Linked DNA regions of Homo sapiens: all the other regions are reported to be linked to region 3. The links are microRNA targets in miRTarBase. Many come from high-throughput screens and were not tested one by one. Region 3 holds a microRNA gene; each other region holds the end of a gene's coding sequence.

Evidence for each region. Region 3 holds the annotated microRNA hsa-miR-6764-5p (UCCCAGGGUCUGGUCAGAGUUG, at 2,706-2,727, shown strand). A microRNA usually pairs through its seed, bases 2 to 8, with sites in the 3' UTR of a target mRNA and lowers its output. Matches are read on the target gene's strand: a 7mer-m8 pairs with bases 2 to 8, a 7mer-A1 pairs with bases 2 to 7 and ends in A, and an 8mer does both.
Region 1: miRTarBase lists GPN1 as a target of hsa-miR-6764-5p. Seed matches in the 3' UTR shown: 7mer-m8 at 2,687-2,693.
Region 2: miRTarBase lists NYAP2 as a target of hsa-miR-6764-5p. The part of its 3' UTR that is shown has no 7-base or 8-base seed match.

Annotation. Positions count from the first base shown.
Region 1 is chr2:27,649,637-27,653,996 of GRCh38, reverse strand. GPN1 (GPN-loop GTPase 1) reads right to left here. Exons shown (of 14, transcript NM_007266.4): 14 at 2,486-3,882. The coding sequence ends at 3,797. SUPT7L (SPT7 like, STAGA complex subunit gamma) reads left to right here. Exons shown (of 6, transcript NM_014860.3): 6 at 250-3,188. The coding sequence ends at 512. Among named protein-coding and RNA genes, the nearest start is that of SUPT7L, 12 kb to the left of the region's middle. RefSeq lists an enhancer at 191-1,390.
Region 2 is chr2:225,697,720-225,702,079 of GRCh38, reverse strand. NYAP2 (neuronal tyrosine-phosphorylated phosphoinositide-3-kinase adaptor 2) reads right to left here. Exons shown (of 8, transcript NM_001371273.1): 8 at 1-3,763. The coding sequence ends at 3,536. All of the region lies in intron 5 of LOC105373914 (a long non-coding RNA gene), which reads left to right. Among named protein-coding and RNA genes, the nearest start is that of NYAP2, 300 kb to the right of the region's middle.
Region 3 is chr14:100,274,657-100,278,656 of GRCh38, forward strand. It overlaps MIR6764 (microRNA 6764), which reads left to right and starts at 2,701; the gene lies at 2,701-2,761. It overlaps YY1 (YY1 transcription factor), which reads left to right. Exons shown (of 5, transcript NM_003403.5): 3 at 42-102; 4 at 1,834-1,992; 5 at 2,762-4,000. The coding sequence ends at 2,944. It also overlaps a transcript of SLC25A29 not described here. RefSeq lists an enhancer at 3,677-4,000.

The DNA of each region.
Region 1 (4,360 bases), not on the chromosome of region 3:
GGGGTGGGTGAGGTAGAGGAAAGAAAGGTAGAAGAAATGGAAAAGAAGATAATCAGAGCTGGTAATTTTTTGGGATGGTTAACTTTTTGAAGCAGAGAGTAACAACCATATTCTCCAGCCAAGTACAGAATCAGAGTGAAAACTGAGCTCAAAGCATATTAGTTGGTTCTGAGTGATATATTTACTCTTTGTTCTACACTTGGCTACACATATACACTTGGTGTATGTCCATCTTTCCTCTGTTTCTAGGTGCAGAGGTAAATGCTTCTCCTCTTTGGAATCTGGCCCATGTGAAAATGGAGCCTCAAGAAAGTGAAGAAGGCAATGTCTCTGGGCATGGTGTGCTGGGCAGTGATGTCTTCGAGGAGCCTATGTCAGGCATGAGTGAAGCTGGGATTCCTCAGAGCCCTGATGACTCAGATAGCAGCTATGGTTCCCACTCCACTGACAGCCTCATGGGGTCCTCCCCTGTTTTCAACCAGCGCTGCAAGAAGAGGATGAGGAAAATATAAAAGGAAAAGAGGGAGATGTTTTGTCCAGACCTACTAGACCCAACAGAAAAGGTTTTTGTATTAGAATCTGTTTCCTTAAAAATTGATTTGACTCCTGTTCTTAAACACAAGTGGTTTTTCCTAATTCCAGAGGAACTGGACGTCACCAAACAAGGTTGCATTTTACTTTTGCATCCAGTTTTTATAGTTTTCCACAACCAAGCCACCCTTCACAGATAAAATATGATGCTGGCATGGCAATCAGACCAAAGCACTGTCCCCAATTGTTGTCTTAACTATGACTAGACATGTTATACAGCCATTTATCTTGTACAACTGAGAAGAATCATACTTTGACCTACCTTGTAGAGATGTGAGGATTTAGATGTTTGCTAACTTCAAAACTGTGCTTGAATAGACTAATAATATATGCTCATATCAGATGTCAGTTTTCATTTAACTTGATTCATTTTTGGCTCAGGTCATTGGGAACCCATTACTAATACCTAACAGGAAATAGCTAAACACAACACACCTTATCTATTAGTCACCTTCTTAAAACTGTTTTTGCTACTTTTGAAGTGTCTTATTTATAAGATCAGAGGTCTGACACCTTTTTTGCTTAGACAGCTCTCTATCTCATCCATTTATTTTCTTCTCTAGACTTACTCCATCTCTCCTCATCCTTTTGCCTTTGTTATTTCTGCTCGGACTCACATACTTTCACCATATACATATTTTCAATTGTTTCTTTCCTTTTCTCCTTTGTGAGCAAAGCAAACAAGTACTGTCCAAGGACAGCCTTGTGCATATTTCATTTGTTGCATTTGCTTGGTCATCAGAGGACAGCAGTCCATTAAGCACACTTTGCTGCTTCTACTGTAAAGGCAGCCTTTAAAACATAGCAATATGCACCTTTCAACTTTACATCATGTCCTGAACAACATCACTGTGGTTACTCATCCATCAGACTATCTGTATATATAAGTACTGAATCAGTATTTATTAAGTAAATGATGTAGCACTGTAGTGATTAGGAATCATTAGCAAATGTGTTGCTTCATGCCTTGGTGATGGATGCCAGCATGTTAAACTGCTGAAGTTTGATTTTCTGATGCAAAATATATCTTGTAAAATTTAGACCACTCCTTTAATGCAGACCAAAATAAGGCACAGCTTTAATTCATTATTGAATGCCTTAAATGTCCCAGGTATTGAGAATAAATGAATATGATACAAATGAGGTTATAGTTTAACATATAATTTTAAATTTGCCAATTGTAACTCTTTAGCACATTTCTCTAAACCCTTTCTGTCACAGTCTTTTTTTTAATTTATTTATTTATTTATTTATTTTTGAGATGGAGTCTTGCTCTGTCACCCAGGCTGGAGTGCAATGGTGCAATTTCGACTCACTGCAACCTCTGCCTCCCAGGTTCAAGCGATTCTCCTGCCTCAGCCACCTGAGTAGCTGGGATTACACGCACATGCCACCACACCCAGCTAATTTTTGCATTTTTAGTAGAGATGAGGTTTCACCGTGTTGGCCAGGCTGGTCTCAAAACTCCTGACCTCAAGTGATCTGCCCGCCTCGGGCTCCCAAAGTGCTGGGATTACAGGCGTGAGCCACTGCACCTGGCCTCTGTTGCAGTCTTATCTTCATTTTCCTTTGTTTATAATGAAAGTGGCGATTAGGCAGTTAGTTTCCATAAAGTGGCCGTATGGGAATTTAGTTCATTCATCCAGCAAACATTGAGTACCAATTATTTGCTAGGTCCTGTGCAAGGAATACAAAAATGATTAAGACTTCTTCCTTACCCTTTTGGAGCTTGAAGCATAAGGAAGACAAGTTATTCTGTAAGGAAGATAAAGCATTCAAAAGTACTACAGAGAAAAACCAAGTATGCTTGAGTTTTGCGAATGTTCTCCTCTTAAAGAATAGCTTCAAATTTTGAGACCAGTGGTTCCCACTAAGTATAGAACATTAAAATTAATACTTTATAATAAAACACTTTTATTGCTGCAGAATGTTAAACTGCATAACAGGCACCAGATGGTCAAGACGAGGGAAATATGAGAAGGCAAATGATGTGAGGATTAGTATCTTGAGATTCACCTGGTCTGGAATTATGTCATAGGCTACTATGCATCAGAATCACATGGAGGGCTTTCTAAAACAGACTGCTCAGCCCACCCCCAGGGTTTCTGAGTTCATAGGTTATAAGAGGTAAGTTGAACAATTCCCCAGATGATGCTGATGCTCCTGGTCCACAATGTGAGAACCACTAAGTTGGAGTACTGACTCATAGAGATAAAATTCTTTGAAAGAAATGTACTGTTTTAAGATACTGTAAAATGTGGAGGCAGGGCAAACGTTTATAAGGGCTGTTATGTATGAAATGTGCCTCTGACCCAAATCCACGGACTTTGCGAAAATCACCAAGGAGACTTTGCATTAAGTTCAGAGTACAATACAAACTGGGCCTAGCTCTGTATTTAGTCAGTATGTGCACGTGGGAAACTTTAGTAAAATATCACCTCCTTATTGAGACAAGTTTGGACATCTGGCCTTAAGCCTCTGTTGAACAGGAGAAGTGAAGCTGTTTGCAATTATATAATTTTCTAATTTGAAATCATGACAAGCAGTCTTAGAACAAAGTTAAAATTAAAAAGTCTTTATCCAAGTCACCAATGAAACAGGATTCTGATTCATTAATCATGTCTTGCCCACTTTTTTCAACAAACCTGACGTCCTATAATGAGCTATACAGTGTGAGGCATATTTCATAGCAACGTTGGTTGATTGCCAAGGAGACTCTGCCACCGTTCTGGATAAGCTCATGTTTCCCTTTTCCTTGGCTGCTAATAGAAGGGCAACTTACAGTGCAGGGTCAAGAGCAAGAAGCTGGGGGAGTAGAGGCTATACATCTAGCCTAATAATAGAGATCTGAGGTGGTCACCAGGAGACTACGTTCTTTTGATTCCATTCCTCAGCAGCAAAAGTACTTGAGTTCAAATGATAAAACTTGAAGTTGTAGGCTTGGAAGAGTATCAGCTCAGTATATCCTTCCTTGCATAAATACAAGGGAAAGGCCAAGGAATAATCAGCATTAACCTGCCAGGTCCAAGGGTCTTCTATCCCTGACTTCATCTGAGTCACAAGATTTCTCTAATAAGAGAAACTTTGCTACTCTGAGGAAAATTATCCCTTATGGGAGCCCCCAGTTCAGAGGTAAGAACAGTTCTTTCACGTGGAGGTCCAAAATTCTGGACTTCTAGAAACAAGTGAAGTGTGCTAAAGTCTCCTATTTATTGTTTCTCTTCCAGTATTGTGCCATCGATTCTTGCATAAAATTCTGGAATGCTGGCTCTTCATGGCTTTCCTCTGTAACTGCAAGGAAAAAAGGGCAATTCTTTTTCAACTCTTTCATTAGACAAACTGATTAGAGCCCGTCACCCATCCATCAGAAAACAGTACATTACTTCTAAGAAACTTAAGTACTCACTTCCCTCAAAAAGGAAATGTCTCCTAGAAGCATGCTCTATCATGCTGCCCAAAATGTAGTTTCTTTATAAGTAGAAAGAATACCTCCCTCATAGTAGCTAAAATAAGGTCCCACTTGTAGGTATTTTTAACCAAGAGAAATGAAAACATACGTCTACACAAAGATCTATTTGGAAACGTTTATAGTTGCTTTACTCATAATAGCTAAAATCTACCCAAATATCAGTCCACTGGGGAATGGATAAACAAACTGTGGAACATCCACAATAATGGAATATCACTCAGCAATAAAAAAGAACATACTGATACATGCAACAACATGGAGAGACTACACTACTGAGTCAAAAAAGTCAAATGCAAAAGG
Region 2 (4,360 bases), not on the chromosome of region 3:
TTCACATGTGAGTGTAGTTATTTTACAAGCTCTTTTCTACTTGTCTTAACATGGAAGTGATATTAAAATTGCATTTGTACGTGCATTGTGTTGATGTCTTATTTTATTAGTTAAAATAATAACCCAATGGCTTTAGTTTTATTGACGTAGTCACTAGATTTGCTCAAAAGAATCAAACTAAATTCCATGTATAGGCAAGACCTACCAACAAAATGTAGTAATAAAAACATTCTTTTATTCTCTAGAAGCATTCAAAGAAAATTTTGTCACTACTTTGGAAAGTAAAGTTGTATCTAGTTGTCTCCAGACAATTGGCATGTATTTGAATATATAATACTTTAAAACTACAAATTTAAATCTCCGGACGTTTTGTTTTACTTTTCTAATTATTTTACATGGGTGAGTATTAACCTTCATTTACATAAATCCATCACATTTGGCGCCAAGCTTGCTTCAGTAGCATAAACATGGGAGAGATGTGAGCGGTGTTTATGTAATAGACTACTCTTATACCTCAGAGGATGCTGGCTTCTGCGATTGAAATAAATGCAGATTTTTATATTTTCTTTTCATCAATTCTAAAGAAATTTATATCTTCTCTGCTAAGGAGTGTTTCACATATAAAAGCATCTTGTGACATCCAATAAAATTCTGTTTCTATGAAATTTGCTGTGAAAGGACCATTTTTCATAAGTATGAGCTCTTTCAACCTGATAACCAGGCCATGATATGATTTGTTCTTTGGCACTGCTAGAAATATGAGCTTTATCATGGCATAGTGTTCTGGCTATCTGTAGGCTATATTCTGACCAAATTAATATATTGAAGTATCCCAGTTGATTACTTTCAGAGAGTCAGCTTATTTTTCTCTACATACTAATGATCTCCTTTTCTCCATTTAGAGAAACACTACACAAAAAGGAAATTGATCATGGAATGATTATTGCCACAGTGGACAATCGTATAGGCACAGAATAACAGTTCTTGAGTCAAATCTCAGTGAAGCCACTTTTCCAGATCTTTCAGTCACTTTCCACTTAAGTAGAGATTTGCGGAAATAAATGAAAATGGTTGCCTAAGGTCAAATTTTCAAACAAGTTACCGCCTCAGAAAATAATGCATTTGAAAAAGGAGTGCATGAAACCTGGCCCTAGCATAAGTTTGATAGAACAAACAGGAATGGTTTAATCCAACACAGATCATTTTAGTACTTTTGTTTCCTTCTTGACAAATGGCCAACATTAAATAAACTTTCTGCCTAAATCAGAGTGATATGGGAAAGATACGCATCTGAAAAACACACTTGCATCTCCCCACAGAAAGATGTTCCCTAAATATAAATTTTAAGGGAGGGTTAATCATCACCATACTGAGCCTGAATATATACGTAATCATAGACATGCTGAGAATTAGTATCTTGTGTCTGACTGATAGGCTTGAGTATATGTGGTCATAATAACTTAAATCAGGATAACAACTTGGGTCATAAACACATTTTATTTCCATTCTGATTTTATCTAAACACATTTTCATCACCCTTAGATTTGTGCTTCATAGATTATTTGGTTTGAAACATAATCTATAGCTGGTGAAACATGCTGGCGGGTTTTATTTAAGCTACTTAAGATCCCTTCCTAATTTCCTGCATTTGTGATCCCGGTTTTCTACCACCTCAATTATACAAGCAGAACCTGCAACTTCAGTAAGCGTTTTATGTATACAGTTCTCCCACTGAGTATTCGTTCATGTACACACACACTCACACACACACACATGCACGCACGCTCACAGACACACCAACCATACACTGCTCCCACTTACCTTTTTCCTTATTTTTTCAGAATTTGAATTGGACATCAAAATACACATTAATTATAAAACATTAGAAAATCATGTTATAACATTGAAAAGGCTTTTGAAAGAAACTATTACTGATAAAGCATTACTAGGTTTGTAGCAATATAGATTACAAAGATTCTCTAACTCCTGTTATATTTGGTTTTATTGAGCAGCACTGAACTATTGCTGTCAATACCCTTACAAGAAAAACTGCTATAACAATAACTTCAAAAACACATCTTTTCTCTCAGAAATATAATACTAAATTGATTGTTAACAAAGAACCACATACTATCAATTTTAGGAGGCATAAATAGTAATTTAAATATACAAAATATATGCGATAGTTTCTTTTTTATTCATTCGTGGCAATATTTATATTCAACTAACAAGTTCTTCTTAAAAGATATATATGATTTTTTTAACTTAAATTTCACCACTACATAAAATTGAATCCACCCCATCCCTCATCCCCTGCATTTCCTGTCTCTTTCTTGAAACAAAATGAAATGAAACATGATCATAATTCTTTGGTCATGGTGTCATAATCAGTAAGAATGGGTGTGATGATCACATACAGAAGATTATGACCCAGAAATGTGGTGATAACCAGTTTGAAAAAATTAACAAGAAATACATATTTTATTAATAGATCTAAACTTTTAGAAAGATTGGCATTTAGTGTATTAAAATATGTAAACTGGTCTAGTTGAATGTTTATTTCTCATTTTCTTGGGGAAACAAGCATACACATGAAAAGTTACTTAAATATAGTGATTATGGTGGCTACAATGCCACTGGTCCCACTTTCTTGAAAGCAGTCATGCTCTTGAGCTATTAATTCCTTGTTCCTTCCATTGTCACAGTGAACCCTGGTCTCCTCCAATCAGATCAATGATGCAAGGACACATGTCCCTAAAGTCATTTCTGAAGGAAATGTTTTCTGCTGGGATGTCCAATATATCCTAGTAACTTTCTCTGGAGTCTGACTAACCATTGCTTAGTTATTACTAAGTCAGACTAATGGTTAGCCTAACCATTGCCAGAGGATGCTAAAGAGAAATTCTTATAAAGCCAATGTAGCAAAAATATTGTTGTCAATGTAACTTGGACGTCCAAATTAAGCATCACATTTGCATTCATTTCCTGTCAAACCCTTGAAACTTAAAAAGCACAGATGCTCTTAACAAATATGATATTCAACTTCTACGTTACTAGCACCAGATCATATATTACGTGATTGAACATGATTTATAGTTGTGAGCTCTTGTACAGAAACCAAATGTGGGCAAGGGAAAAAAAACATTTTAAATGCAAAAATTAATAATAAAAGGCATCAAGGGATTACATATAAAAGAGATAACAAACCAGTTAATACTGAAATTATATCATATAGTAAACTCTTGATATTTCTGTAATTTATATACGTATAATGTGTATTATTTCAGATGTCACCCATAAACTAGTAAAATATTTACATTTTAATATCTTCTGGATTCAAAATAATCCGGGATAAATAAGTGTGCCTTCATTGCAAGGACATATGCATTTTATCTTGAACTTGCCACGAATAGGCACAGCTTCCCGTGGCATTCCACTCCCACAGAAAAGATATGTAACAGTTCATTATCATATGACCGAGTCGACCTCCCTCTTCATATTAAGAAATGTAGAGCTCACACCATCCTGCACACACTCATATGGCAGTATCCCAGAATACCGTTTGCTGTTTAGAATACGGTGGAGGGCTGTACTTCTTGGCACCTGCATTCTTCTTCCAGCTGGGCAAGATAGGCATGCTATCCTGTTTGCAAAGGCCCTTTTCCGTTTTCTGTCTAGCCTTTATTTCCTTGCACAAGCAACGCTTTTTCTCAATCATCTCAAGCATTGTATGGTCTCCATGAAACCACTGCATGCATGCCACCTAGCAAAAAAGAAAGAGTGAATACAGAAGAAAAAAATGGAATGAAAGCATATTTCTTTTGCACTGTGCTAGTAGTTTCTTAGAACAATGTCAGCTGTTTCTATATCTCTTCTAAAATTCTTTTTAGTTTTGTCTTGTTTTAGACAAGGTCTCACCCTCACCCAGGCTAAGAATACGATGATGCAATCACAGCTCACAGCAGCCTCAACCTCCTGGGCTCAAGTGATCCTCCCACCTCAGTCTCCCCAGTAGTTGGGACTACAAGCATATACCACCATGCCCAGCTAATTTTTTAAAAAAAATTTTGGTAGAGATGAGGTCTCTCTATATTGCCCAGTGTGGTCTCAAACTCATGGGTTCAAGCAATTCTCCCGCCTCAGCCTCCCAAAGTGCTGGGACTACAGATGTGAGCTACTATGCCCAGTCCAAAAACTCTGAAGATAAATTAAGAAATAATTCTTACAAAACAAAAATAAAAGAATGGAAACTATAAACAAATTTTGTACTTAAATTAGTAAACATCGCGATATTTAACAATTTGGGCATGAATATTTTTCAATATGTTCTGAAAGTTCATGATATGAAAATTAAATCTTT
Region 3 (4,000 bases):
ACTCCTACAAATCTGTCTGTCTCTCTTTTTCTTTTGATAAGAATGAAGCCAAGAAAAATTAAAGAAGATGATGCTCCAAGAACAATAGCTTGCCCTCATAAAGTAAGTAATGCTAGAGGGAGAGTGTTCATTAAACTGTTGATGAAGTTTTAGAGAGTTATAAGAAATTTGCACTTTTGTTTCTGCTTGTGATAATTTAAATGAAGCAAGGAATTAGAATCTTCGGTTTCTAAATCCAAGAGATGAAGTTTTGTTATTTAGTAAAGGCAACTTTTTAAATACTGTTAAATGGGATGACTGCAGGGAGCCGTTGCTTGATTACTGTGTGTTGACTCTACTGTTAGCGTTTCATTTCTTTTTGGATTATATTAACAAGTCCGTCTTAAGATCCTGGGTTGTGTCTCACCTATTGACCTTTATGGGAATGTAGGCTTGTAACTGAAATTTGAAAATTATTTTGGATGTTGCTAAAATAAGCCAAATAAAGACTTAATAATTGTGTGTGATTAGAGAGGCACTTAATTGTTTTCAAATGTAGTTAGTCTTTAAAATAAAAGGATAACCTGAAAAGTACTTTTGAGATATTTGTTGGGGGCTATTTTCAAACTTAATTGGATATGAGACTAACAGAAAAATCAAGTATCACATAGGTACAGAGAACAAAGTAGGAGAGATTGAGTGGAATAAAGAATGTTAAAAATGAACAATCGGAGCAGGCTACATTTAGTTTCACGGTCTCTTCCCTGTAATGACTGTGCACTAGCAAGTCCTTCCTGTTCTTTGTCAGCGTTCTTGATGTGGCGATTTGAAATGTAAACGTATCTCCATTAGGGCCGAAATAACAAGCATTTGAAAACAGTTAGGCTGGAAGTGCCTATGCCATCCCTTTAGCTTCTCTGAAGTTTTCTTTATAATGGACACATAATACTTGTACATATTTATGGGGTACCGTGTGATGTTTCAATGCATGTATACATTGTGTACCAGTTAAATTTTTTAAATTTCCATTTTCTAAATGGAAATTCAACCTAGGGGTAAAGGCGGAAAAACTGGGGCTTCCCTCTCCCTTCTGCCTGTGAGCTGTCTAGTGACTTGTGCTGTCCTTCTGTCATGCTGTCTTATCATTTCCCCATTCACTCCATTACTGGGCAACAACTGCAGAAGAAATTGTTGAGGACATGCTTCTCGAGCGCCACACATCCATCTGCCTTTCCCGCCCTGCACTGGTATCAATTTGCCTGCTTCTTCCTTTTCCTAGTGTCTCACAAAATAAATTTCTTCTGTAGTTGCCATTCCTTGGAGACCCTCTTGCTTCTTTCTCTGTCAAGAAGGGGAAAGAGGCAAAGAGAGAAGAGGGAACAGTAGGCGATGGAGAATGACAGTCCATTGTTGCAGCACAGAATATGGGGCCACCAAAGGTAGTGGTGGACTACCGTCATTTTAACTCCATTTGCTTAGCAGTGCTTCTGTTACTTCATTTTGGGGGACATAGTCGGGTGAGGTGGCTGTGGTAGAGCTGGAAGCCAGGGTGTTGGGTTCTATTCCCAGTTTGGCTACTACTAGTAGTGTGACCTTGGGCAAGTCTACTTAAAGACATCTCTAAGCCTCAGTTTCCTCATCTGTAAAACTAGGGTTTGCATTGAATGATGACTTTTTCAGCTGTCTGCTTTTTGTCTTAAATGATATTAATGTTCTACCGTAATACTAAGTAAAATTAAAATGGGGGGTTGGGGAGGTGGTTTTGTTTTAATATGTCAGTAAAGGCTGTTAAATGGTTGAATCCTTTCTAACAGTTTGCAATGTGAACTTCTAAGCTGCTTTCTCTGTTTTAAGGGCTGCACAAAGATGTTCAGGGATAACTCGGCCATGAGAAAACATCTGCACACCCACGGTCCCAGAGTCCACGTCTGTGCAGAATGTGGCAAAGCTTTTGTTGAGAGTTCAAAACTAAAACGACACCAACTGGTTCATACTGGAGAGAAGCCCTTTCAGGTAGAGCCAGTTCCCTCTCTTCCCCACACTGCCTTGCCTGTCTGAACACTGCAAGTGTAGGTGGTGTGGTGATGAGGCAGGAGGCGCCAGCCCAGAGACTCAGGGTCTTATTACTCCTTGGTGAGAAACAAAACTTCTCCTGGGGAGTCGCTTAGAAGGGTTGCCGGGGCTCTGGACATCCTTGTCTATACTCTGTGGTACTGGGTACGCAATGTATTGGTGTTGATGGAGTACACTTTATGGCAGGAGGAGAACAGGATTGAAGAGCATACCTAAAACTCAATTTCTACTTCATTCATTACAGGATTGAAGTAATTTATTTTTGGTAGTTAATAGTATAATTACTAACTGATAAAGTTTCTAGAGTGTAAGTATAGGTAATACTTTAGCCCATAAATAAGTGAAAGAACTAGCAGTGCAGCTAGTAAATCTAACGTGGTTCTTTTTTGACAACTGACACCAGAACCCTTAATCATTTGTATTTTACTGTTGGAAATGTTTACAGCAGCACTAGGACTCTAGCCTGCATTTAGGAAGACTTGCCATTTTGCCAAGTGTTTTAAACAGTTCGTGAGGGCTCTCCTTGGGTTTTCGGGGTTGTCCAACCTGCCTGCTGATTCTAGACTATATCCACAAAGTTCACCCAGGGCAGGAATGAAAAGTGTTTGGTAAAATAAATAGGCTGTTCTCTAGCAAAGCAGTGAGCTCCTGACTCCCAGGGTCTGGTCAGAGTTGCTGAGTGGGTTGATCTCTGGTCTTTCCTTGACAGTGCACGTTCGAAGGCTGTGGGAAACGCTTTTCACTGGACTTCAATTTGCGCACACATGTGCGAATCCATACCGGAGACAGGCCCTATGTGTGCCCCTTCGATGGTTGTAATAAGAAGTTTGCTCAGTCAACTAACCTGAAATCTCACATCTTAACACATGCTAAGGCCAAAAACAACCAGTGAAAAGAAGAGAGAAGACCCTTCTCGACCACGGGAAGCATCTTCCAGAAGTGTGATTGGGAATAAATATGCCTCTCCTTTGTATATTATTTCTAGGAAGAATTTTAAAAATGAATCCTACACACCTAAGGGACATGTTTTGATAAAGTAGTAAAAATTAAAAAAAAAAAACTTTACTAAGATGACATTGCTAAGATGCTCTATCTTGCTCTGTAATCTCGTTTCAAAAACACAGTGTTTTTGTAAAGTGTGGTCCCAACAGGAGGACAATTCATGAACTTCGCATCAAAAGACAATTCTTTATACAACAGTGCTAAAAATGGGACTTCTTTTCACATTCTTATAAATATGAAGCTCACCTGTTGCTTACAATTTTTTTAATTTTGTATTTTCCAAGTGTGCATATTGTACACTTTTTTGGGGATATGCTTAGTAATGCTACGTGTGATTTTTCTGGAGGTTGATAACTTTGCTTGCAGTAGATTTTCTTTAAAAGAATGGGCAGTTACATGCATACTTCAAAAGTATTTTCCTGTAAAAAAAAAAAAGTTATATAGGTTTTGTTTGCTATCTTAATTTTGGTTGTATTCTTTGATGTTAACACATTTTGTATAATTGTATCGTATAGCTGTATTGAATCATGTAGTATCAAATATTAGATGTGATTTAATAGTGTTAATCAATTTAAACCCATTTTAGTCACTTTTTTTTTCCAAAAAAATACTGCCAGATGCTGATGTTCAGTGTAATTTCTTTGCCTGTTCAGTTACAGAAAGTGGTGCTCAGTTGTAGAATGTATTGTACCTTTTAACACCTGATGTGTACATCCCATGTAACAGAAAGGGCAACAATAAAATAGCAATCCTAAAGCAAGAATATGGCAGAACAAGATCTGTAAGCACAGTCTTATTTTCTTTTGTTGTCCAGAATACTTATAATTCTTGAGCCTCCCAGAAATTGGAAGCTAAATAAAGCAACTCAAGTTTCCTTTATTTTGCACTCAATTACAGTGATTATTGATGAAAGCGATGCATGGATATTTTAATACTTCCTACATGT